2 separate regions of the Homo sapiens genome follow, and region 2 is linked to region 1. Evidence: fine-mapped QTL for protein levels in blood plasma. A gene starts in region 1. The other region holds a variant in brackets. All regions are shown on one strand. Distances are between the middles of the regions. Region 1 holds the start of CD2AP (CD2 associated protein). Region 2 overlaps CD2AP (CD2 associated protein).

The links. PIP is the chance, under the fine-mapping model, that this variant and not a neighbour inherited with it causes the effect. The UK Biobank Pharma Proteomics Project read protein levels with antibody pairs (Olink). The fine-mapping took linkage between variants from a reference panel, not from the people measured, so its PIPs are less certain.
Region 2: its variant is fine-mapped to the plasma level of the CD2AP protein (UK Biobank, PIP above 0.99).

Annotation. Positions count from the first base shown.
Region 1 is chr6:47,468,764-47,481,879 of GRCh38, reverse strand. CD2AP (CD2 associated protein) reads right to left here and starts at 4,091. Exons shown (of 18, transcript NM_012120.3): 1 at 3,632-4,091. The coding sequence starts at 3,635. It overlaps CD2AP-DT (CD2AP divergent transcript), which reads left to right and starts at 3,808. Exons shown (of 1, transcript NR_187257.1): 1 at 3,808-4,637. RefSeq lists an enhancer at 2,807-3,533 and a silencer at 3,820-4,329.
Region 2 is chr6:47,622,941-47,636,056 of GRCh38, reverse strand. It overlaps CD2AP (CD2 associated protein), which reads right to left. Exons shown (of 18, transcript NM_012120.3): 18 at 8,794-11,871. The coding sequence ends at 11,830. Among named protein-coding and RNA genes, the nearest start is that of ADGRF4, 69 kb to the left of the region's middle. The variant T/A (reference allele first, on the strand shown) is at 8,638.

The DNA of each region.
Region 1 (13,116 bases):
GCAGAGGCAAGAGTTTGAGGCTGCAGTGAGCTATGATCATGCCACTGAACTCCAACCTGGGTAACAGAGCAAGACCTTGTCTCTAAAAATAAGTAAATAAATAACATATAAATAAAAATTTTTAAAATATTTTCTCCAAACAGTACAACAAAGTAACATAAAGAAATCACTCTATTATAGAAGTGCATATATCATCTAAACCAACCACAAATTTGTCTATTAAAACCACCACGAGGCCAGGTGCAGTGGCTCACGCCTGTAATCCCAGCACTTTGGGAGGCCAAAGCGGGCAGATCACATGAGGTCAGGAGTTCGAGACCAGCCTGACCAACATGGTGAAACCCTGTCTCTACTAAAAATGCAAAAATTAGCTGGGCATGGTGGCACACACCTGTAATCCCAGCTACTGAGGAGGATGAGACAAGAGAATCCCTTGAACCCAGGAGGCGGAGGTTGCGGTGAGCCGAGATCGCACCACAGCACTCCAGCTTGGGCAACAGAGCAAAACTCCATCAAAAAAACAAACAAACAAACAAAAAAACACCACCACATGACTGATATGTTTTATATACGAGAGCCTATAAAATAAACTAAAAAGTTCACCGCCTTATCTAAAATTATTAAAGAGAAATTCTGCCCTTAGAAGTCTGCTTACTCTTCCAAAAATAAAAATTCACAAATATTCCTTTTTTGTGCTCTAGAAATGCTCTGACACTTTGTGCCATTTGCTTTCTGCCTAATTCTGCTCCAAAATGCCGATCTGTATTTTTGGAATAAGAAAAATAAGCACTGCCTATCTGTCTCCCTAGAGCTCTTCCCAAATTCTTTCACACAGAATACCTCAAACTTCTCAATAGGCATTTTATCACATTTAACAAATGTAGACACTAAAAACATAAACTTCAAATAAGTCTACTAGTAGTCATCCCACTTAAGAGTTTTTCCTAAGCAACTAAAGCTCTTACCAATAATGGACTTTCGCACAGTACATCCAACATTGAAAAAAGTATCTATGTGGTTTCTGTAAGGTTATATCACATAAAATTCAATTTCTGCCTTAGTGCAAAATCATCTCATCCCTCTGGTCCTTTATTTAAAGAAAATATCCTACTTCTAACAAAGGTCAAAAATTGAGATTTTTTTTTTCCCAAGTTGGTACAAGAATTAGGGAAATCATTTGAAAATGAAAATCACCACCGCCAGCACTGGCAGTGTTCTAAGCACTTTACAAGTAGTAACTCATTCAATCCTCCTAACAACCTATGAGGTTGATATTTTATTCCATTTATAGATTGAGAAACTGAAGCACAGAGAAGTAATGTGCTCAGTCACACAGCCAGTAGGTAGAAGAGAATTTGACCTCAAGTAGTCTCTGTCCAGAGCCCATGCTTTTAACTCTCTAGCTGTACCACCTAAACTTAAGAACCACCATTTAATAGGCATCCAAATTATCTTACACACAAAAAAAATTTCAGATTTTTTCATTTTGTGACAAATTAGATAAAATATCATGTAAATATTTTAGGCTGCATCTAAAATCATAAGAAAAAAGGATGGCTGGTAAAACCAAATAAATGAGATTTATATTAAAGAGCAAACTCCCTTTAAGTGAACTTGGGAATTTTATTATTACATGACCAATAAACTTAAAGAATATATATATTGATATGGAAATGTTTCACAAACACTTTACAAAAACTTAACCACAAATGCCCTCAGTAACATACCTTCAAAACACATTCTAAGTAGTCGAGAGTATACCAACATTGATATCCAAGTCTATATGAAAACTCACCTAAACAGAACACAACAAATAAATCACAAAGAAAAAGCCTCTGGACAATCAAAATAGGTATTCCAATGTCCAAGTATTGGTACACATTTACTTTTCTCCAGAGACGACCTCACACACTAAGTAACGGCCTACTGATTTTTCCCCTATGCAGAATCACAAACCTGAATATGATTTCCACACTTCTAAAAAAAAATTAGAAAAGGAAAGATGATGGGGGACACTAATCAGTTACAAGCACATCCAAAAGCAAAGCAAAAAAAAAAAGTATTTAAATAATTTCAAAATGCGAACAAATATTATTTAGAATTTAGCTCAAAAGCCCTATATGCAAAACAAGACTGCATCCCCAGGTCATCCAAAGTAGTTTAATTTTATTCTGCATCCCATTTAAGACAGAAAAGAACTGTGTAATTAACTTTAGTATTATCTTAATCCAAAGCAGTTAAAGTGATTTTATAATTTCATACTTAAAAGAATATGCCCACAATTGCCCTGCAAGCTCAACTAATCAATTATAAAATAATTCATTTGAAAATTCCAAATAGCAAATGTTTTATTTCACTGTTTTTGAGCTCAAGAGCACTTTTGAGTATGAAAGTTACCTGAAAGGAGGGAGGTGGAGAAGGGAACATAAAATTAGAAAAGTCTAAGAAAACAGAGGATAGCTAGGCGAGTGTCTATAAACAATATGCTCAAAACATCCCCCACAAAGCAAAGTGTGGACAGAGGGTGCCACATCAGCAGTAGTCTGTATTCGTCCTGCTTCTAAATCATTTGTTAATTACATGAATTATTCATTTCGGTGATCGTTTGTTGATATGAAGCAGTACCAACTCTCAACTGCAAAAAGTGATAGGGTCCTCCTGATTTGCTCTACAAAAATCAAACTTGGGTTTACTCTTACAGAACACGTTCTGCCTTATAGAGACACAGGGTGTTTTGTTTTTTGTAAGCTATTCTTAAGTTGCTTTTAATTTTTAAAGGATTGAGGGAGTTAGTTTAATGCCTAGCCCACACCGAACTTTGTTATCAAAAGAAATTGTTACACCACTTAACAAAACTCCTTTTCAACCCGGACTGCCACACATTCTGCCTTCTCTAACTTCAAACAAAACTATAAAGCACATAGTAAATAACATATAAGGCCTTGTATTTTTCTCTCCTCCGGCAAGGAAGTCTAACTCCAAACAGGAAACTGCTCCTCAAAGGATCCAACACTGAAGTCCAAACCCAGTCCTCGGGAGCACACTGAATGCTTAGGTGCCAACACACTTGCCTAGGTAGAACCCGAGTAAAACAAATACTCAAGCTTTCCTGTCCTTGAGGCACCCCTTGCGAGTTTCAGCAGGAAAAAAAAAAAGTTTTTGAACAAATTTATCTCTCTCCTTAAACGTATTCAAAGCCTCGCAGAAAATAAAGAAGTTGAAAGTGCTACTTTATCAAGTTTTTCGATCGCCCTCCCCCATCCCACGAGGAGGGGGAGGGAAGCAAGGGGATGAGGAAGGGAAGGAAGGTCAGGTCTGATTTTAGCTGGGCAAGGGGTTAGCAGAGGTGGCCAGGCGCCCCCGCCCCCCATCCCGCACCTTTCTGGTGAACAGGAAAAGAGGCGGAGAAGGGAGAGCGAGGGAAAGCACCCGCGAGCTCTCCCACCAGTTTCTCCGTGAGAAGAGCAAGGTGGAAGGCAGGGCAAGAAGGGGCGGTGGGGAGAATGGAGAGGGTGGGGTGCTGCCGCTCAGGGGCTGACCGCAGTCGCCTCCCCAGAAGGCCGAGAAAGGGCACAGCCTCCCCGGGTCTGGAAGGTCCGGACGGGCGGCGGGAAGCGCCCGAGTCTCTTACCCATGCTGGGGGCTCCCGCGGGGAGAAGCCGACGTCCGCTCCTCCTCCTCCTCCTCCAGTGGTGGCTCGCGCGGCCGCTCCCGCGGCTGGAGGCGGGACCCGCGCTCCGCGCTAGCCCCTCCTGAGCTCAGGCGGGGCGAAGAGTCGCCTCCATCCGCCCGCGGCGCTCTCCTACCAGTCTCTTCAGCGCGGCCCTCGAGGCAGAGGCAAAGGCGGCGACAGCTCCTCACCCCTGGCCTCCCCAGGAGCCACGGCGGCGGGAGGGCCCTACCCCGCCCGCCCGACCGCGGTTTTCCCACCCTGGCCGCTCCCGCAGTGGGGAGGGACCCACCGGTTTGCCCAGACCCTCGGCTCCAACCCCGAGCGCCCGCCTAGCCTCGGAGCCCGCCCCTCGCCTCTTCCTTAGCACTCGCAGTTAGAAAAGGCGACACCGTAGACTAAGGTGGGGACCCAGACAGAGGCCGAGAAGGTGCGGGGAGCTGGGACCGGGAGGAGGCAAATCTCGCGAGAACGCCCTCGTTCTCCCCGCCCCACCCCGCCCCGTCGCGTTCGGGCTCTCTCCCGGTCCCCACGGCTGCTGCCAGGTGCGGTGACGTCACGGCCGGGGGTCGCGCGCCGACCGCGTCCAGGTGCAGCGAGCGGATGAGGAAGCGGTGCAGAGGAGCTTGGGCTCGCTCTCCCCCCGGAGGCTCGGAACAGCTTGGGCGGGCGTTTGGTCTGGTTTGTCGCCTCAGATGGATCAAAAGGTTTCTGCTGATAGGCAAAGTTGCCCCACTTTCCGCGGCGGCGACGCGGAGTTACTTTCTGCAGCGAAGCAGCCTCGAGGACCTTAAAGGGAAAAGGCGGACAGAAGGAGGGCGAGCGCACTTGATTTCGACCTTTAAGGGAGGCCCAGATGCTGCCAGGCCCCTCAGTTTACCTTGCGAAGTTACTTACGGATCAGCAGCATTTGGTCTTCGTCGGGTGAGGGAGAAACCTAGGCATCAAATAAATTCTGTTTCACAGATTCCTTTAGTCTCTTGTCAGCTGAATGCAACTTTATAATTTGCTTTTTTTCTTTTTAAAGTATAATTTGAGTTGTTACTTGATCGAGAGAAAAATAGGCATCATGATTTGAAATACTGCCAGGCATTTTTTCTAGCGTCAATGTGAAGGAGGGCATAGGATTACTATAGTCAGTCAAACATGAGCTTGGTAGTTACGAAGAAGTATAATTATTTCAGCAAGCTTTTTTTCCCCCTTCTGTTTAAGTAGACCCAATTCCAGGGCAGATGTGTGTGTGAGCGTTTGTTGAACGCCAACTATTGTGCCTAGTGCTTTTTCAAGAAATTTTGTAATTCTCAGTCATCCAGCACTGAAACTGACTTGCCCTTTGGATCCAGGCAGACATGGGTCCTTGAAACTCAGCACAGCCATTTACTTTTTGTGGGACCTTGGATAAATTAACCTGTCTGAACTTCAATTTCTTGAGTATGTTCAAACAAATCTTGCAATGCAGAGCACAGTGGCCCATAGTAGTAACCTTGGACGTATCCATTACCACTATTTCCTATAGGCCTGCTTTTGCCATCTTTTAATTCTTCTAATGCTTCTCAAAAGGTTACATGTGGTAATTTTATAACAAGAATGATCAAACTCACAAACAGCAGCCAAAAAGGATAAAAGAAAAAAGTTGAATATACTCACCTAAACAAGATTACATTGACATCATGGAACATGTGCCTTTTTTAGGTAACAAATATGTGTTCAGCATTATGTTCGTTGTCCCCTACCAAGCAAAAAAATAAAAAGCTAAAGTACAGCGCTAATCCTCAGAGATTTTGCATTCTTCTAGGGGGGTGAGATACGAACACAAAGTTAATTAACAGTATGAGGTAGTGAGGGTCAAATGCTTGAGAATTTAAAGGAAAATAAATTACTGTGGGCAAAGCAAGCTGTAAAGAGAAGGTATGAGTTGAACGAAAGCTTGGGGAAGGCAATAATTCAGTCTGGAGGAGTCCTAGAACTGAGGAATGGAAGTGGATATGCAAACAGAGTATTTCTGAGCCTTTAAGAAATGTGTGTGGCTCAAGCAGCCCATAAGGAAGGCCATTTACGATTTGGAAGAATGAGGCTGGTGATGGGCTAAGAAGGATTCATGAAAGGAGACAAAAATATAAGCTATTGGAAGCACATACATAGGTAGTAAATTCAAGGCCCAGAGCCCTTAAGTTTCTAGAGACTAAATTTCTAGGTCTCTAGAATCCTTAATATTTAAAGAAGAAAGGCCAATGAATAGAATGGAAAAGAAGTTAAGTAAAACAGAAGGGGGAATAAAGACTATCAGATTTGATAATAAGGGCATCTTTGAAAATATAATTTCAGAATATATATAATAGAATATATAATATATAACTACATATTCAGAATATATATATAATAGAAAATTCAGATTAAAGGTTTTATCAATTGAATGATAAGGAAGTGGAGGCCACAGATAAGGTAGATATTTTCTGAGAAGTCAGGTCACATGATCTGACAACAAGATAAAACATTTACAATCATTTATGTCCTAGAAATTCCAGGATCTTCACACTTGTAATCCCAGCAATTTGGGAGGCCAAGGGAGGAGGAGCACTTGAACCCAGGAGTTTGAGACCAGCCTGGGCAACATAGCAAGACTCCATCTCTACAAAAAAAAAAAAAAAAAAAATACAAAAATTAGCCCAGGTATGGTGGCACAGGCCTGCGGTCTCAACTACTTGGGAGGCGGAAGTGAGAGGATCACCTGAGTCCAGGGCCGTCGAGGCTGCAGTGAACTGTGATCCTGCCACTGCACTCCACCCAGCCTGGATGACAGAGTGAGACCCTGTCTCAAAAAAAAAAAAAAAAAAAATTCTAGCATCAGTTATTGCCATAATTAATGTACGTATTTTACAAGTTTAAAAGTTAAATTCACTTTGCAAATTCAGAGGCATTATCCATTGAGGTAATGATGAGATGACAAATCATAGAAATTGGAAGGATCAGGGAATAGAACCCCTAAGAATGGTTGAGAAAACTGAAGTAAATCTAAGAAGTAATCGCAATCCCAAATTTAATGTTGTTTTCCAAAGACAAAGCCAAAGGAAATTCTAACAGAAGAATGAAATCTAGCAATTTACTTTTAAACTTACAAAATGGTATGTAAAAATACCTTCTAAACTTTTGAATGCTATGCAAATATTAGTTATTAATTATTCCTTTAAGCTCTTTTCATCCTTTAAATCTTACCTTCTCAGCTATAAGAGGCCTTCAAGGTATGGCAGTATGTTTTATACGTTTTTATATGGCTACCACCGTCTGCAGCTCAAAACATTGCGTTCCCTGGCAATAATTATTAGTTGAATGAGAGAAAATATGGTGAGAAGATAATTTCTACTTACCACATATATTAAATTTAAATTCCTTTAATCTAAAAACAAATTATCTTTTACTTTTCCCTTTATTTTATTGTTACCTTTATACTGGATTAGGTTTGTTTCTGTCCATCTGTCCTTATTCTTCTTTGTATTCCAGTACAAATGGACTAACACCACTCTAATCATTCACTTTCTTTTTTTCTGCCAAGTACTAAACATGTTGATCTGATATCAAGGAGAGCACTACAGTTCTGTGTGAATGACACAATTTCAGACCAACGTAATTCATGCTAAACTGCCATGATTTCTTCCTGAAGTTTTCTTAGGAATTTATCTGAAGATATCTATATTTTAAAAAAGCATCTGCCTTCTTTCCTTTTGGTAAAAACTATTATAACCAAGAAGATTATGCTAAAGAAAAATAAGTGTTAACTAAATTATATTATTTTTAAAGCACTCATTTAGCTAAAATCTTGTGACTAATTATTTTTTCTTTATTCTCATTCAAAAGTACTAGGTTTCCTGGGAAGTTTTCTTACTGCTACCTTGTTTTGGCCTGGCTAATTTACTGTAAACTTAAGCCCAAATTACATCAATGTATAATCTGCATTTTAAAAATCATTCTTTAGAAAACAATTGTAGGAAATAATAACCTCAATCAGAATGCCTATACTGTGAGATCATTGAAGCTGAAAAATCCCCCTGCTCAAACTGGTGGCCCATTCAGCTTGCAACAAAATACTGTTCCTCGACTAGCAACTTGGGGGATGTCCTCAGGCCTATGACCACTCTAAGCACTTTTCATTATTGCATACTAAGAAAGAGTTAATTAAAAACATGATGACCCATCTAAATGAATCACCACTTGCCAACTGCAAGGACCTTTTTAATGGTGTTATTTGCACTTTATTCAGATGCTAGTGTCATAAAGCTGGCATTTGATAGGCAAGTCATAGGAGACTCATAGGCCTTTAAAGGGAATATCTTTCAAGAAGCATTACTCCTCCCAAATATTAAAGCTAGCTCCTTTTGAAGGGTCACATATTTTAAGTAATCTCAAATAACAAATACATTTGCATTTTCAAATATCAGGCAGTTAAATTATACACATGGTATTATGTAAATAATTTCCAGTCACAAGTACACATTTATTCAACTCAACAGATGTTTTTCTGATCACCCATTACAAATGAGCAGCTTCTGGATGATAAATATAGAGATAGAAATAAAGTCCTTGCCCTTAAAAGAGAAAGGATTGGGGAGTCTCTCGAGGGTACATTGGAATTCTCAGTAAGGACAAGGAAGGGTAGTCAGGTAGCCAGGACAATAGGCAGGTATACAATCCAAAGCCCAGGATGGGCGTGGTAGTTCACGCCTGTAATCCCAATACTTTGGGAGGCCAAGGCGGGCAGATCACCTGAGGTCAGGAGTTCAAGACCAGCCTGGTCAACATGGCGAAACCCTATCTCTACTAAAAATACAAAAATTAGCCAGGCATGGTGGTGGGTGCCTGTAATCCCAGCTACTTGGGAGGCTGAGGCAGGAGAATCACTTGAACCCGGGAAGCAGAGGTTGCAGTGAGCCAAGATCATGCCACTGCACTCCAGCCTGGGTGGCAGAGTAAGACTCCATCTCAAAAAAAAAAAAAAAAAAGGCTAGGATGTCTTTGAGGGGCCAGGCTCTGAGACCACACTCAAATATGGAGAGCACTGTGTGCCAGGGAAGTAATTTGACGTCTTGTTCTAGAAGTAAGAGGCAATTAATGAAGTATTTTAAGTAGGCAACTGATTTGCTTTTCCAGCTACATCCACGGTCATAAAAAAAATGCACACAAGTCACAAAAAATTAGGTACAAAAAAATTTGGTTAAATAAGCATTGATTAAGCACCCACTACCCTCAAATAATTAGTAAATATGTTTTTTTACTAATACAATAAATGTTTAAACTAATATAAGATACAAGGGATTTCATATGCTGGACACTGTGAAAGATTCATTGCAGCAAACACAAACTCTGCCTTCAAGGAATGTGATTTCCAGCTAAGAAGGCAAAGATATACCTAACTATTTCAACTTGCACTTATTTAAATAAAATGTACCTTATTGAGGAGAACCTGCATTTCGAATCAACATGGCACAGACAAATAAACTGGGGAAATTTTCAATTTAATAATTAATTTGTAGTATTCTTATTTGAATCTCTGCAAAATTTTATGCTATAGAAATTTTTAATTTTTGTGGGTACATAGTAGGTGTATAGATTTATGGGGTACATGAGATATTTTTATACAGCCATACAATGCATAATAATCACATCAGGGTAAATGGGATATCCATCACCTCAAGCATTTATCCATTCTTTGTGTTGCAAACAATTCAATTATATTATTTTAGCTATCTTAAGATGTGTAATAAATTATTGTTGACTGTGCTCTCCCTGTTATTCTATTTAATCATACTCATTCTATCTAACTATATTTTTGCACCCATTAACCATTCCCATTCTCCCCACCCCTGCCCAGCCTCTTCTAACCATCATTCTACACTCTGTGAGTTCAATTGTTTTAAATTTTTTACCTCCCACAAATAAGTGAGAACATGCAAAGTTTGTCTTTCTGTTCCTGGCTTAATTCACTTAACATATGACTTCCAGTTCCATTCATGTTTTTGCAGATGACAGGATTCCATTCTTTTCTATGAATGAATAGTACTCCATTGTGTATATGTACCACATTTTCTTTATCCATTCATCTGTTGATGGACACTTAGGTTGATTCCAAATATTGGCTATTGTGAGTAGTGCTGCAATAAACATGAGAGGACAGATATCTCTTTGATATAAGATTTCCTTTCTTTTGGGTATACGCTTAGCAGTAGAATTGCTGGATCATATTATGGTGGTTCTATTTTTAGTTTTATGAGGAACCTCCAAAACTGTTCTCCATAGTGGCTATACTAATTTACATTCCCACCAACAGTGTACAAAGGTTCTCTTTTCTCCACATTCTCACCAGCATTTGTTATTACTTGTCTTTTAGATAAAAGCCATTTTAACTGGGGAGAGATGATATCTCACTGTAGTTTTCATTTGTATTTCTCTGATGATCAATGATGTTGAGCATATTTTCATATACCTGTTTGCCATTTTTTTTTTTTTTTGAGACGGGGTTTTGCTCTTGTTGCCCAGGCTGGAGTGCAATGGCATAATCTTGGCTCACCACAACCTCCGCCTCCCAGGTTCAACCAATTTTCCTGCCTCAGCCTCCCAAGTAGCTGGGATTACAGGCATGCGCCACCATGCCCAGCTAATTTTTGTATTTTTAGTAGAAACAGGGTTTCTTCACATTGGTCAGGCTGGTCTCGAAATCCCAACCTCAGGTGATCCGCCTGCCTTGGCCTCCCAAAGTGCTGGGGTTGCAGGCGTGAGCCACTGCACCTGGCCTCCTGTTTGCCATTTTTATATCTCCTTTTGAGAAATGTCTATTCAGATCTTTTGCCCATTTTTAATCAAATTATTAAATTTCTCCTATAGAGTTATTTAAGCTCTTTATGTACTGTAGTTATTTATCCCTTGTCAGGCAGATAGTTTGCAAATATTTTCTCCCATTCTGTAGGTTGCCTCTTCACTTCGTTGATTGTTTCCTTTGCTGTGCAGACACTCTTTAACATGATGTAATCCCATTTGCCACTTTTGCTTTGGTTTCCTGTGCTTGTGAGGGTACTAATCAAGAAATCTTTGCCCAGTCCAATGTCCTAAAGAGTTTCCCCCAATATTTTCTTTTAGTAGTTTCATAGGTTCAGGTCTTAGAAATTTAAATCTTTACTCCATTTTGATTTGATTTTTGTGTATCACAACAGATGGGATCTAGTTTCATTCTTCTACATATGGGTATCCAGTTTTCCCAGCACCATTTATTGAAGAAACCATTCTTTCCCCAAAGTATGTTCTTGGCACCTTTGTTGAAAATGAGTTCACTGTAGATGTATGGATTAATTTCTATGTTCTCTATTCTGTTCCACTGGTCTATGTGTCTGTTTTTATGCCAGTACCCTGCTGTTTTGGTTAGCACAGCTCTGTAGTATAATTTGAAGTTGCATAACGTAATGCCTCCAGTTTCGTTCTTTTTTGCTCAGGATAGCTTTGGATATTCTGGGTCTTTTGTGGTTCCATATTAATTTTATGATTGTTTTCTCCATTTCTGTGAAGAATGTCATTGGTGTTTTGATAGGAACTGCATTAAATTTGTACATTACTTTGGGTGGTGTGGACATTTTAACAATATTGATTCTTCCAATCCATGAACATGGAATATCTTTCTATTTGTGTGTGTGTGTGTGTGTTTGTGTGTGTATGTGTGTGTCTTCTTCAGTTTCTTTCATCAGTATTTTATGGTTTTGATTGTAGAGAACTTCCACTTCTTTGGTTAATTCCCAAATATATTATTTTATATGTAGTTATTATAAATGGGATTACTTTCTTGATTTCTTTTTTAGATTGTTTGCTGTTGGCATATAGAAATGCTACTGATTTTTGTATGTTGATTTTGTATCCTGCAACTTTACTGAATTTGATTATCAGTTCTAATAGTTTTTTGGTGGCGTCTTTAGGTTTTTCCAAATATAAAATTATATCTTCTGCATGCAAAGATAATTTGACTTCTTCCTTTCCAATTCGGGTGCCCTTTATTCCCTTCTCTTGCCTGATTGCTGTAGATAGAACTTCCAGCACCATGTTGAACAACAGTTGTGAATGTGGACATCTTTTTCTTGTTCCAGATCTTACAGGAAAGGCCATTTTTTCCTCTCATCAGTTTTTCCCCATTCAGTATGATACTAGCTGTGAGTCTGTCATACATGGCTTTTATGGTGTTGAGGTATGTTCCTTCTATACCCAGTTTTTTGGGGGGTTTTTATCATAATGTTGAATTTTATCAAATGGTTTTTAGGCATCAGTTAAAATTATCATATAGTTTTTGTCCTTCATTCTGCTTATATGATGAATCACATTGATTTATTTACTTATGTTGAACCATCTTTGCATATCTGGGATAAATCCCACATGGTCATGATGAATGCTGTTTTTAATGTGCTGTTGGATTCTGTTTGCTAGTATTTTATTGAGGATTTTCACATGAATATTCATCAGAAATATTGACCTGTAGTTTTCTTTTCTTGATGTGTCCTTGTCTGGTTTTGGTATCAGGATAGTATTGGTTTTATAGAATAAGTTTGGAAGTATTCCCTCCTTCTCTATTTTTTGGAATAGTTTGAGAAGCATTGGTATTCGTTCTTCTTTAAATATTTGGTGAAATTCACCAGTGAGGACATTGGATCTTGGACTTTCTTGGCTGGGAGATTCTTTATTATGGCTTCAATCTTGTTACTTGTTATTGCCCTATTCAGGTTTTGAATTTCATAAGCTTCAATCTTAGTAGGTTGTAGGTGTCTAGAAATTTGCCCAAGTCTTCTAGGTTTTCCAATTTATTGGCATATAGTTGCCCATGGTAGCCCCTAATGATCCTTTGAATTTCTGCAGTAACAGTTGTAATGTATCCTTTTTCATCTCTGAATTTATTTATCAGGGTCTTGTCTCTTTTTTCTTAGTCTGGCTAAGAGTTTCTCAATTTATCTTTTTAGAAAACAACTTTTTTCATTTTTTTTAAATTTTAATTTCATTTATCTCCGCTCTGATCTTCATTGTTTCTTTTCTTCACTAATTTTGGGTTTGGTTTGCTCTTGCTTTTCTAGTTTATAAAAATGCATTGTTAGATCATTTATTTGATTTTTTCTACTTTTTTGATGTAGGCGCTTATTGGTAAAAATGTTCCTTTTAGTACTGCTTTTGCTGTATCCCATAGATTTTGATATGTCTTGTTTCCATTTTCATTTGTTTCAAGACAGTTTTTAATTTGCTTCTTAGAGTTTTTACTGACCCACTGGTTATTTAGGAGCATATTGTTTAATTTCCACGTGATTGTATAGTTTCCAAAGTTCCTTTTGTTATTGATTTCTAGTTTTGCTCCACTGTGGTCAGAAAAGATACTTGATATGATTTCAATTTTTTGAATTTTTTAAGACTTGTTTTGTGGCTTAACATATGGTCTG
Region 2 (13,116 bases), 150 kb before region 1:
CAAGCCAAATGTCCATCAATGATAGACTGGATTAAGAAAATGTGGCACATATACACCATGGAATACTATGCAGCCATAAAAAGGATGAGTTCATGTCCTTTGTAGGGACATGGATGAAGCTGGAAACCATCATTCTGAGCAAACTATCACAAGGACAGAAAACCAAACACTGTATGTTGTCACTCATAGGTGGGAATTGAACAATGAGAACACTTGGACACAGGGTAGGGAACACCACACACCGGGCCTGTCATAGGGTCGGGGGAGGGGATAGCATTAGGAGATATACCTAATGTAAATGATGAGTTAATGGGTGCAGCACACCAACATGGCACATGTATACATATGTAAAAAACCTGCACGTTGTGTACATGTACCGTAGAACTTAAAGTATAATAAAAAAATAAAATAAAATAAAAAAAGAAATCCAAGCCAGGTCAAAACCAAAACCCAAGTATCAAGCAATCCAAGTCAAGTCAAAAACAAAAACCAAAGCGCAGGTACAGGCTGCCATGGGTGATCAGGCCACGCTTCCACTCAAATGGAGTGGGCGAGTTCCGAAGACCAGTCTTACCAAGTTTCAGATGTCCAGACTCCTAGTGCCAGTTCCTTCCCGGTGTTCAGCCACTGCGTTGATCCTCCACGGGGGCCTGCCAGGCACTGCTCTGGTGAGCTGTTCCACTAGGGCAATTGCCTACCCGCGAGCGCTCTCAGGATTCGTGTTGCTCAAGCTGGCTGGAGTCCCCCACAGGGATGTTCCACAGGGCAGACCTAAGCCTCCTAAGGGGCTGCCTCGAAGTCTGTTAATCACCTCGCTTCCCGGTCAGGGAACCAAGAAATGTAGCAGGACAAGCCACAGACAAAACCCCTCAGACACCAAGTTAAAGAAGGAAGGGCTTTATTAGGCCAGGAGCTTCGGCAAGACTCACGTCTCTAAAAACGGAGCTGCCCGAGTGAGCAATTCCTGTCCCTTTTAAGGGCTTACAACTCTAAGGGGGTTTGCGTGAGAGGGTCGTGATTGATTGAGCAAACAGGGGGTACGTGACTGGGGGCTGCATGCACTGGTAATCAGAATGGAACAGAACAGGACAGGGATTTTCACAGTGCTTTTCCATACAATGTCTGGAATCTATAGACAACATAACCAGTTAGGTCAGGGGTCAATCTTTAACCAGGCCCAGGGTGCGGCGCTGGGCTCTCTGCCTGTGGATTTCATTTCTGTCTTTTAGTTTTTACTTCTTCTTTCTTTGGAGGCAGAAATTGGGCATAAGACAATATGAGGGGTAGTCTTCTCCCTTAATAAGCTATTTTGTTTTATTCAGAATTTTATCTTCCAAGAGCAAATATTTCCTGGAGAGCAAGTACCTAATCTATTTTTGTTTGCTTTTGGTATTTCACTTGGGACAGGAAAGAATGTCCAGTACCAGTATTGTTTATCACAAGGACAGGAAAGTATGTTGGTTTGAATTCTCAGCCATCAGGAAAACTTACTTCTAAAGTTCTAAAATTCACCCTCAAATTTTTAATTTATATTTTCTCTTCTTTGTCCACCACCCAGTTTTCCTCAGCTTTGTTGTTTAAGTAGTCGATAACCTCATTTCTTATCTTAGTCACTAAATAGGCTTCAGGCTCAGATTTGATCAGCAGGGGATCTTATTATCTTCCTCTTTCCAGTGTCATTATCTACCATGAAATTAGTTGTCTAGCTAATTTTAAGAGTCTAGTTGTTGGAATGGTGAATTATTCCCAGGGTAAAGTGTTTCCTTTTCACTGTATTCATCAATGCCCCTCAAAACTCCCTGGGCAAGTCACTATTTATTCTGGGGATGATTTTTTAAAACACCCCCCACCTAAAAAGTACTTTCACTCACTGGTAAGCTGAATCCTTTGTCTGAAGCCTTCCTTTACTGCCATAAAGAAGGGAAGGGTGAATACCACAGCATAGGGAAAAGAAGGCTAGAATATAGGAACATTTCAATCTGACAGGAAGCAGAGAGCCTGTGGCTGGCAGAATAATCCCCACCACCACCACTGCCACCTAGATATATACACACATTCTAGTCCCAGGAATCTGTGAATACATTACCTTACACGGCAAAAGGGATTTTGCTAATGTGATTAAGAGCCTTCAGACAGGTGGGCCAAATGTAATCACAAGGGTTTTTAAGAGTGGAGAGGGAGACAGAATCAGGGAGAGGTGATTATGCATGAAGGATGGAGGACTGCAGTTTAAGAAGGGCTCAACCCTCTACAGGTGGCTTTGAAAATGGGGAAAGGGGGCCATGAGCTAAGAATTGCCAGCAGCCTAAAGAAGCTGGAAAAGGCAAGGAAAGGAATTTTCCCCCTAGAGCTTCCTTTGGAAGCCTTAATTTTAGCCCAGTGAGATTCATGTCAGACTTCTGACCTCCAGCATATAAAATAATACATGTCTATTGTTTTTGCACCACTAAATTTGTGTGATAATTACAGCGGCAATAGAAAGCTAATCCAGAGCCCTTCTGGTTCTGAACAAGAGAAGTTCCGACACAGAGAGCAAGAGCAAGGGCCAGGCAAGAGGTGAGATGTCTTCTCACATCAATACTCAACTAGGGAGGAAAGGGGCAGAGGAGAGCAAGAGGCTCAGAAACACGGAGTCTTGTCTCCTCCTGCTCCCTAGAGGATGTATCCACTTCTTGCACACACAGACACCACACTAAGAACAAAGGCAGATCCCTGAGTGAGGAGAAACAGCCCAAGGGAATTTTATGTTGATTGCTACTTATTTTGTATATGCAGTGATTTATAATTTAAACCAGATGACAGCTGGGCATGGTGGCTCATGCCTGTAATCCCAGCACTTTGGGAAGCCAATGCGGGCAGACCACTTGAGGTCAGGAGTTTTTGAGACCAGTCTGGCCAACATTGCAAAACCATGTCTCTACTAAAAATACAAAAATTAGCAGGGCATGGTGGCACATGCCTATAGTCTAGCTACTTGGGAGGCTGAGGCACAAGAAACACTTGAGCCGGGAGGCAGACGTAGTGAGCTGAGATCATGCCACTGCACTCCAGCCTGGGCAACAGAGTGAGACTCCATCTCATACACGTACAAAAAAAATAATCAATTAATTAATAAGCCAGATGAGAATGTAGCCTTTGAATGGCAATTTTTTTCTTGCCTCAGTAAGAACACAGGTTCAGATCAAGATAAACAAACATAAAGGCATTTTTGCATTACACATACATTCACAAATTCAATAGACTAAAACGAATATACATTATTTTATTTCATTCTCTACTTCTCCCTCTCTCTCCATGGAACTGGTGATAATCTTGGTGAGACTAAGGAAACGGTCCCTGAATACTTTTATGTATACTATGTTGTTTTTCTCATACTCCAGGATTTTTATCACTATTAAGAATCATAATCACTAGTTTTGTCACTTGTTCAAAATACTGTCTAAGCCCTGGGTCAAGACTTACTGATATCCATGAAAGGTTTTGCTTTTCCCTAAAGCATACTGCAGATGGCTGGCTATTTTGTCAGTGGAAAGATCTGTGTGATGTTGTCTTGCTCTGTCCTCCTATATAGCATGTTTCACTTCTGAAGTCTTTCAGGTGACCACGTTCCTTCTGGGGTAGGACTATTCTCTGCTTCTGTGACCCTACAGTCACATCATCACCACAATATGGACATTTTAACCCCATTTTGGAGAGAAAAGTCATTTCCTGCTTAGAATTTGGGCAGAAAATGGATTCACTTTTTCAGGCATGGTCGTGGCACCATAGACTCTCTCCACTGACCACTGGCTCTGGACTGTACTGGCAGACTCCAACTCTATATGAATTATACTAGACTTCACATAGGAAAAAGACAGAAGTGGCAAAACCAGAGATGCCCTACCAGAAACTCCTTAAGAAGCCTGGAGCACAAAGCTCACTACAAAACTATTATATGAGCTGGTTACATAAGCAACCATAAATGGGATTTGCTTTCTCTTTGGCCTGGTTGTGGTAGGAGCACATTGCAGGACAAAATGGAGGAACGGGAGGTGCCACCAGAGAATCAAGGACAGGAAGTGGCAAATAACACATGTGAGAAAAGGTTCAGGACTCACTGCAGCAACCTGGGGTCAAAGGAGCCCTCAAGGCGTCAACATCCAACAGAAATGACAAACAAGAGCAAGATGGTTTTGTTGCTGCTGTCTGACTTGTTCTCCCAGAACTCAGGGCCTCCTTTCTCCCTCTTCCCTGAGTAAACGGCAAGAAGGAAAGGGTTTAAATTCTGGCAAAACAAAGTTTTTATGTCTCTTTAGATAAGGAAAGGGATAAGACTTGAGTGATTTGCCAAGTTCACACAGCTACTCATTTTTAGAGCCAGTTTTCAGAGCGAGATCAGTTCGATTCCAAGGCCCCAACTCTTTTTACCCTATCATGTGGCACTTAGCTTGGGGAAGTAATCAGGCTAGGGAAGTAGGGTTGGTTGTGTCCCAGTTCTGGGTGAAGGTTGGAGCCCTCTCTGATTTTATTTGCAGCTGCTACCTGTTTATGGTTTCAAGACACATATAAGCTGAGCTTTATTTGACTGCCATCTAGTGGTCATTTAATTTTGTTTTTTTCCTTTTTTCTTTTTTTTTGAAAGACAGGGCCTCATTTTCTTGCCCAGGCTGGAGTGCAGTGGCGCGATCTGCAGCCTCAACCTCCTGGGCTCAAGCGATCCTCCCGCCTCAGCCTCCCAAGTAGCTGAGACTATAGATGCACACCAACACACCCAGTTAGTTTTTGTTTTTGTTTTGTTTTTAGTAGAAACAAGGTCTCCTTATATTGCCCAGACTGGGCTCTAAGCTCAAGCAATCCTCCCACCTCAGCCTCCCAAAGTACTGAGATTTCAGGCATGAGCCACCGTGCCTGGCCCATTTAATTTCTTTATGGAAGCTACGTAAGGTTGTTTATTGTGTTTTTGCTGAAAAGCCATGAAAACCATTTAAGTTTGCAAAGATGTACACTAAGAAATGAAGAACGTTTCCCAAAATCTTGTGTGACCACATCACAGAGAAATCTAAAAACTATGAGATCCCTGAAAATAGACTTTACATTTAGTCTCTTACTGGTGGAAAAATGTTGACAGACTTAATATAAAGGATCACAAAGAGTGAAAGAAGTAAGACTAGACTAGAAGAAATTAATATTCCCCAGGCAGGCTCCTTCTTTCCTATATATTATCTATGTAGAGAGGCAATAAAGCTTATGAGCAAAAGCACAGGCTTCAAAACTCGGTTTCTTGGGCTGAGTTCAGCTCCAGGCCTTATTAGCTCAGTGGCCTTGGCCAAGTTGCTTAACCTTCCTTAGCCTCTTTCCCGTGTGTGGAGTATAATACCTCCTAGCACGCAGGATTGTTGAGATGATTAGATAGGATAGACAGGTAAATTAGATAGCAATTACTTGGAATAGCACTTGGTATGTGGTAAGCACAATATAAACATTAGCTATGTTTGACGCGATGCCTACTTTTAAAGGTAAGTTTACTATAAAATGTAGGGTAAACTGACCATCTAAAGTCCAGTATATAAAATTTGTTAAATACATTTTAAGAGCCTAATGCAGTCCCTGGAAGAATGTCTGTTTTATAGCAATCGGCATGATAGTGGTTAGTCTTGAGGAGATATTATACTTGAATATTTGAGGAAGGAAGAAAAGGTAGGAGACGGTAAAGACAAGGGGTAGAGAGAATACCTCCCCTTTTGTCACTTATTCATCCACTAAACATTTACTGATTGTCTACTACATGCTAAAGACCATACTAGGTCATTTTAGGTCAGTGGTTCTCAAAGTGTGGTCCACAAGGTCAAAACAACTTTCATGATAATACGAAGATGCTAGTTGCTTTTCTCATTGTGTTGAGATTTGCACTGCTAGTGTAAACGCAGTGGTGACGGTGACTAGAACTGCTAGGCACGCATCAAGACAGTGGTACCATTTTGTTACTGTGTTCTTCACCACCATACCCAGTACAGGAAACCCCTTCCTTTTATCAAAGTGAACATTTTATTTTTCTCTTATAATTTCATATCATGCATTGAGATTGATAAATTTCCTGATATGAAATCTCTCCCTGTGAGATTTGGTTTATGATGATCAGGTTTAAAGTTATGCTGGATTCATAAAATAAATTGGGTGGCTTTCCATCTTTTTCTACAGTTTGAGTAGCTTAAAGACCAATTAAAACACAGCCATCATCTGGCCTTGCTGTCTTTCTCAGTTGTAGAGCCTTAAATACGTTTCAAATTCACTTACGGTGTGTTTAGTCAATTAAAAATTTCAACTTCTTCTTTGAGTCAGTATTCATTCTTTAAAGTTCCATAACTTAACAGATGTCTTGGTGTTACATATCATGCCATTTTTTTCCTCCTGGGACATAAAGGATTTTAATCAAGGTTTTCTTCTGGACAACTTTTTTTTTGTTATATAAAACACAGGTATCCATAAAGATACTTGTGTCTGATTACTCACGTTTCCATGGTGTCAGTTATTTGATGAATAGCACAGCAAGGAAGAAGAGCTATAAATTGTTAGCCAAAATATTCTCTCATTACATCTGTCTTCCCTAAGAGCATGTCTCCTTCTCCTTGGTTTTCAGACTTCCAATTATTAGGGCTTACAGTTAGTGAGGCTTCTCTTTCAGCTCCACATTCCCCAGCTATCCTTCTGTACAGGATTTGAGCCTACAATGATCAGATGAGCCTTTCAGAGAAATCTGCATCTGGCACAAAGTCTGGGAAAGTTTATATCAGATTTCAGGTTGCTCCCTCCAAAACATTTGGAAGGTATTTTTACTATTATAAATTGTAGCTTCCTTATTTCATCTGAAAAGCAATGTTTTTATCTTAAATCTGCTTTTTAATCTATTAATATCAAATCTTTTTCATTGTACTTACTGTTTTTAATGAGTCTCAAGGGAGGAAAAGACAGTAAAAATGTCATCACTCCGTCACATCGTTTACATTCTGTTCAGTTAATGTTTAGGAATATCTCTAAAAATCCACTCTACCATGAAAAGTTAACATGTGATTTTATTAAAGAATTGTTACTCATTGGGCATGGTGGCTAATGCCTGTAATCCAAGCACTCTGGGAGGCCGAGGGGAGCAGCGCGGATTGCTTTAACTCAGGAGTTCAAGACCAGCCCAGGCAACATGGTGAAACCCAGTATCAAAAACAAAACAAACAAAAAAAAATTAGGTGGGTGTGGTGGCATGCACCTGTAGTCCCAACTACTCAAGAGGCTGATGCAGGAGGATTGCTGGAGCCCAGGAGGCAGAGGTTGTAGTTAGCTGAGGTCGCACCACGGCACTCTAGCCAGGGTAATAGAGAAGGACCCTGACTGGAATAAAAAAAAAAAAAAGTTTCTCAATGCACTTAAAATGTAGTTTTACTTTCAATAACTTTATTCACACACTTTTAAAGGGAACTGAAATGTAGTCAGTAAGAAACACTTGGAACCTGATAGGAAATAATACCATCCAATAGTTGCAAAATAGCCACACCTTTCATGACAGAAAAAAACTATTGACTCTATACAAAAAATACTGATATCTATTTGTGAATTTATTTTCCTTACATGGAAGAGCAGATTCACAAAAATGGTGTCAGTGGTAAAATAAATGCAACAGGATTCAGAAAAAAAAATTTTAACACCCAGACCCAGTCTCTCTTGCATCTTGAGAATACAGCCTAATAAATCCAGGTGAGTTAAACTGCTACCTGCTTTTATTTCCTAGAACTGGGCTAAATTTGCAAATTGTATTTTCAGACAAAACCATCTGCACTCTTCAAACACAAATTCTATAGTCCAAAACTTTTACCATTATATGCCTCCAAAGTTTTTTGTCTAGTGCTTCTAAAAGCCAGTAAGAACTAGAAATTTTTTAAATAAGATTTTAAAAATCTTATGACACACTAATTTTCCACATTGCTTTATAGTGGTGTCCTATTCCTTCTGTTTCAAATCTTCCAGCACACTACTAGAATCTCTAAAGCTATATGTGATCTATGTTCAGCAAAAGTATGTGGACCTTAATGTTCTCCTGATTTCATCTTGTTTTCTGTTATTTATCAGGACTTTTTCGGTTGTGAGTTCAGAAACCCAACAAGCTTATGAGCAAGTCTGTGCTTATAGAACCAAGCAATAGACAGCTGAGACTCAGCAACAGCTACAATCAGTTTCAAAGTCCTTCCAGATTCTGTTTCCATCTATCTATGCTCTACTAAATTTTGTTTTTCAAATCAGCTTTTTCCAGATGACAGAAAAACAGAACTGTGGAGAGCTCCCATGCTGAGATTAGCTCTTTTTGTTTCCAATTTTAAAAATTTCATTCTTTGATTAACTCAGTAACTCAGTTTGAGCCAAGTACTCTCTCAAGGGATTTCCTGGGTGGGGTGATCAAGGAGGTAGAATCTGTAAGATGGTAGCAGCTCCCCTTTGAACAATATAATACAAATGAAAGGAGCATCTCCCCAAAGAAAAGGATACTATACCGTATTCAGGGGGAAAGGATACACAATGCCTCCTTTTTCTTAACCTTATCCATCTAATTTTTATCATATCCATCACTGTAAAATGCTTTTTAAAAAGGTAAAACAGCAGCCTCCATTTTTTTTT[T/A]AAAAAAAACCTACTCTATGCCAAGCACTCTACAAAGCCATTTAGATAAACTATTTCAAATTCTCCCCATAATCCTGTAAAGTAGAAATTACTGTCTCAGTTTCAGATGAAAAACCAGACTCAGAAAAGTTCAGTAAAAGTCATACGGGTCTAGAATTTTTAATGTTTTTGGTTTACTATTTATTCTTGTATTTGGAAATTGAAGTAATATAATTTTCATCATACTCTGAAATACACAAATGCTAAAGTTAACAAAAAATAACCAATAAAGACTGACACGACTGGCAATAAAATCCTTTAATTTTTCTTTTTGAGAGAGAAGCATGCTTTTAAATACAGCACCTGTAAACAAGTTAGTGAAGTATATACTATTTTGAGATTCCCCCTCTCAATTTTTTTTTTGGAATGTTAGGTTACAACATCAACTGCATTACGTAACAGTTATTGAAAGCAAGTCAGGGTAAAATTTTATAGCCAAAAATATTCATAGCAGCAACTTTTAAAATATGATTTTATTAAATCAAGTCATTGCACTTGGTCATTTTATTGCTACAGCAAAACAAGGCCTTTACATTATAATACTTCTCATTTCTGATTTAACTGATTGTCTCATTCTGCTCATACATTTCAAGTTTAAATGCAAGCATAAAATGTTTATCAACAAATCTAGAGAGCACTTGGATTTTTAATTTTTCTGTGATCACAGTAAGGAGCATAAAAAAGAGTATCTTCTGTTACACAAGGCCTGTTCTCTCTTTACATCTTCAGACTTAAATTCTGTAGAAGGTAACAGCTTTGTATTAAGACAGAAGCTTAGTGGTCACAAACAAAAAATAACACTGAAATACAATTCAGAAATTAATGATACTGTGTGTCTCAAAGAATACCTGAACTATACATTCACTAATAATTTGGCAATGAGATTCCATGCTGTTCAACTTTTGTCTTTTATACTCACACGTAGAAAAAAAATTCATGATTTACCCCAAGGTTATTATTAAATATCATTTTGTGATATGAACTTTAGTAATAGAAATTAATAACATTTCCCATACCAACAGAAAGTAAGTTGCTAGAATAAAGGAATCATTTTTCCCATCAGGCCTGGGTTTGTTTGGTTTTCTTTACTATTTTATCAAGGACAGAAAGGTAAAAGTATTTCAGTTACTTTTCTATTCTGACTGAGGAGGACACAAGCAAAAACTTTAAATACATTTCCATGCTCATAAGCATCTTGATTTCATGTACTATTGAGAAAATGACCAACAAAAACTTTAAGAACAGCCTGAAATCTGCTGGAAACTTCCCTCATCCCATTATTAGGATGACCAGGGATCACTTCAATAGATTTTCAGGTGAGAAAGCTGGAGGATAATTTCTAGGATTACAATATTTTTGTTTTACCTAAGGTTGGTCATTAAAAGAAAGTAAGATTTAATTTATTTAACAAGAAGAAAATAATTCATTTGACTAGTCATTTAAACCTATTCTATTTAACAGAAGAGGGAACAATTTTGTTCAGTAGTGACCTCATTAGAAGAGCCCATTTTGAAGAGTTCTAATGTATATTCTCAATATATAATTAGCATTCCCCCAAACCCCTAATGTAAGTTGTAAATTAAACATTATGTTGTTTACTGGCATTTCTATTTTCTACTTCAGTTCTCTTTATTTGAAACATGACAAAATTTCATTTACATAAGATTTCTATATTATAAGATTAAAATTTAAAGGAAAAATATTGGTTTGGTGGTTTAAAACTAAAAAAAATGGAAGCATGATCATTGGTACTCAAAAATCTGACACTCATTTGCGATATAATAAAGCATAAAACAATTTTTTGCAAATAAAAAATTTCAAATTTTAAAAATTTAAATAAACCCACTTGTGTTTTAGATGTTACCTACAGACAGAACATTTTAAAGCATTCAACTGTTCATAAGTAACTCTGAAGAAACAACTAATTCATCCATTCTGTGAAAATGTATTTTAAATATGTTCAACTATATTTGGTTTTAAATAAGCTGTAATGTTATATTTTATGACATACTAACATTCTTTATAAAGTTTGTACCTAAATAATAGTTCAAAATATCTCCATGAGTTAGTTTGGTCTATTAGGTAAATTATACATCGTAAAACCTGAGTATTTACAAGTTAACTTGTCAAAATAGGAAACCTCACACTGAAGTTCTGAAAAGCTTTGGGTTTTGTTTTCCTATTACCATTATTAAAAGTCAGAAGGAGAAACATGAAGAACTAAGTGACAAGATAATGAGAAATATTTGAGGCTGTAAAATAAGCAGAAAAGTACAGCAACAGGCTGGTGTTTACATATTTTATATGTGCTGTAGTTTCTAGGCACAAGTTAAGGGTTAAATTAACAGTTTTAGATTCTTCAGACCTAACAAATTTAAAATACAGTTCATATTTCCCCAAATGTTTAACAATCCAACATATTTTAACTAAGTTCCTTTTATGACTCCTATAGTGCAAGCAACATAAAATATTCTAAAAGTTGATGAAATTATTTTGATTATTCATTAGTTCTTACTATATGCATGGGTGAGTAATCTGGTTTATATAGCTAGGAAACTCCTATTTCATCACCCAAAATATAAACAGCATTGCAGACAAACAGGCACAACAGTGTAACCTTCGGTAAGAGGATAAAAGTAAAAATATATATATATATATACACACACACACACACACACACACACACACACACACACACACAGAGTTTATATCCCTTATGCATTATGGAAAAAGTAGTGACTATAGTTACTAAAAGGCTAATCTGTCCCTCTCAAATAGTATATCTTAACAGATTACTTGTAAATATATCACCATATTTATAGTATAGATCTCTTTAAAAATAATACAAGTTTCAATAAAAAAACTACTGTGCACATTCTTATTTATATTCAGTAGTATTTTCAAGCAAACAATTTTTTAAAAAGTGTTTGCAATCCCAGCACAGTTAAGAAATAAGGCCTCTTTTTCTTCATATTGGCAAAACAAAATATATATATAAATTCACCCTCACTCTACTTTTCTATAGATATTACACTTCATTTGCTCATATTTATCACAACAACAGAATTCACAATTTTTAAGTAACAAGTCAGCTGAAGTTCATAGCGTTGCTTCTGAATCCCTGGAACATTATGAACACCAGGTCCACACCACTCAAGAAGACAGGACAGCTTTTTTCAGCTTCTCTATTTCCATCTAAAACAAAAAACATAAATTGAGCAAACATAAAATATCCTTAGTTTAGTAGTTTATTTTACTCTATGTCATTAAGATGTGATCATACTTTCAAGCCTTCAGACTTTTTTTCCAGACCTAAAATCCAGTTTCCCATGCTATAATTTGGTTGAATAAAGTTTCAACAGTACAATGCAAGTTCCTAAATGGCAGTTACAATAAGAAAAAAGCAATTATAGCCCTTTCAGCCAGAACAAATGTTAAGTCATGTGAGCATTTAAAATTAAAGCTGTAAAAAAATCAGTCAGTCCTACAAAGAACAAAAGAATCCTTGAAACCAAATTAAGAAATGTACATGTATCTATAATTAAACAAAGGATACATAAACAACAGTAAAAAGAATAGAGACCTGTTTAGTTCCATGTTTTTCACTAATTATACTTAATTATAATTATAATTATTGTTAAATCACTTGACTTGGTTTCAATTTACTTATCTGTAACCAGTATATACTACATTAAATATCTTAAAGCCCAGGAATATATCTAAGATTCAGTCAAGGTGCTTGATATAGTTCCACCTTTAGGCAGAAGGAAATTCATAACTTAAGGAATTTATGAAGAAGGAGATCATTTCATTAAGTTTGCACAATAACTACACAGAGTTATTCAATACTGCCATATTCAAATGGCTAGGTTGAGGCTCAAAGACATTAAACAGGATGCCAATGTTCCACACTAACAAGTGACACAGGACTTGTCATGGTAAGATTTAGGGCTTTAAAGCCCATGGTTTTTATATTGATTTCTCTTCTCAATTCTATAACATTTTGATCATCTTTAACCTTTCCCTGCATGAGGAAATATATAGGCCTTGCCTTATCCTGATGGCATCACCTTCCTCAAGAGTGCACATAAACAATACATGCTTTGGCTAGCTTCGACAAACAGCACATTATTAAACGATTAGGACTTTGCCATAGTCAAAAAGTATAATTTTTATATGTTCACAATCTCCTAAAGGATTATAACTACTCAAGAACCGTTTATTAATTTCAGGATCTTCCTTGATATGATTCTGTAAATATTATGATGATTAGCTCAATGTTTTAGCAGCACTGGACTACAACAAGCCTGTCTTCAATTTGGATTGAGACGATAGCTTTCATTGTCAGCCCGATCTGTTATTAAAGTCTTTATTCCAAAGATACAGAAAGCGGTAAGAAAAACAAATTGGTAGAAGAGGGAGTAGGGAGTGTGAAGGCTA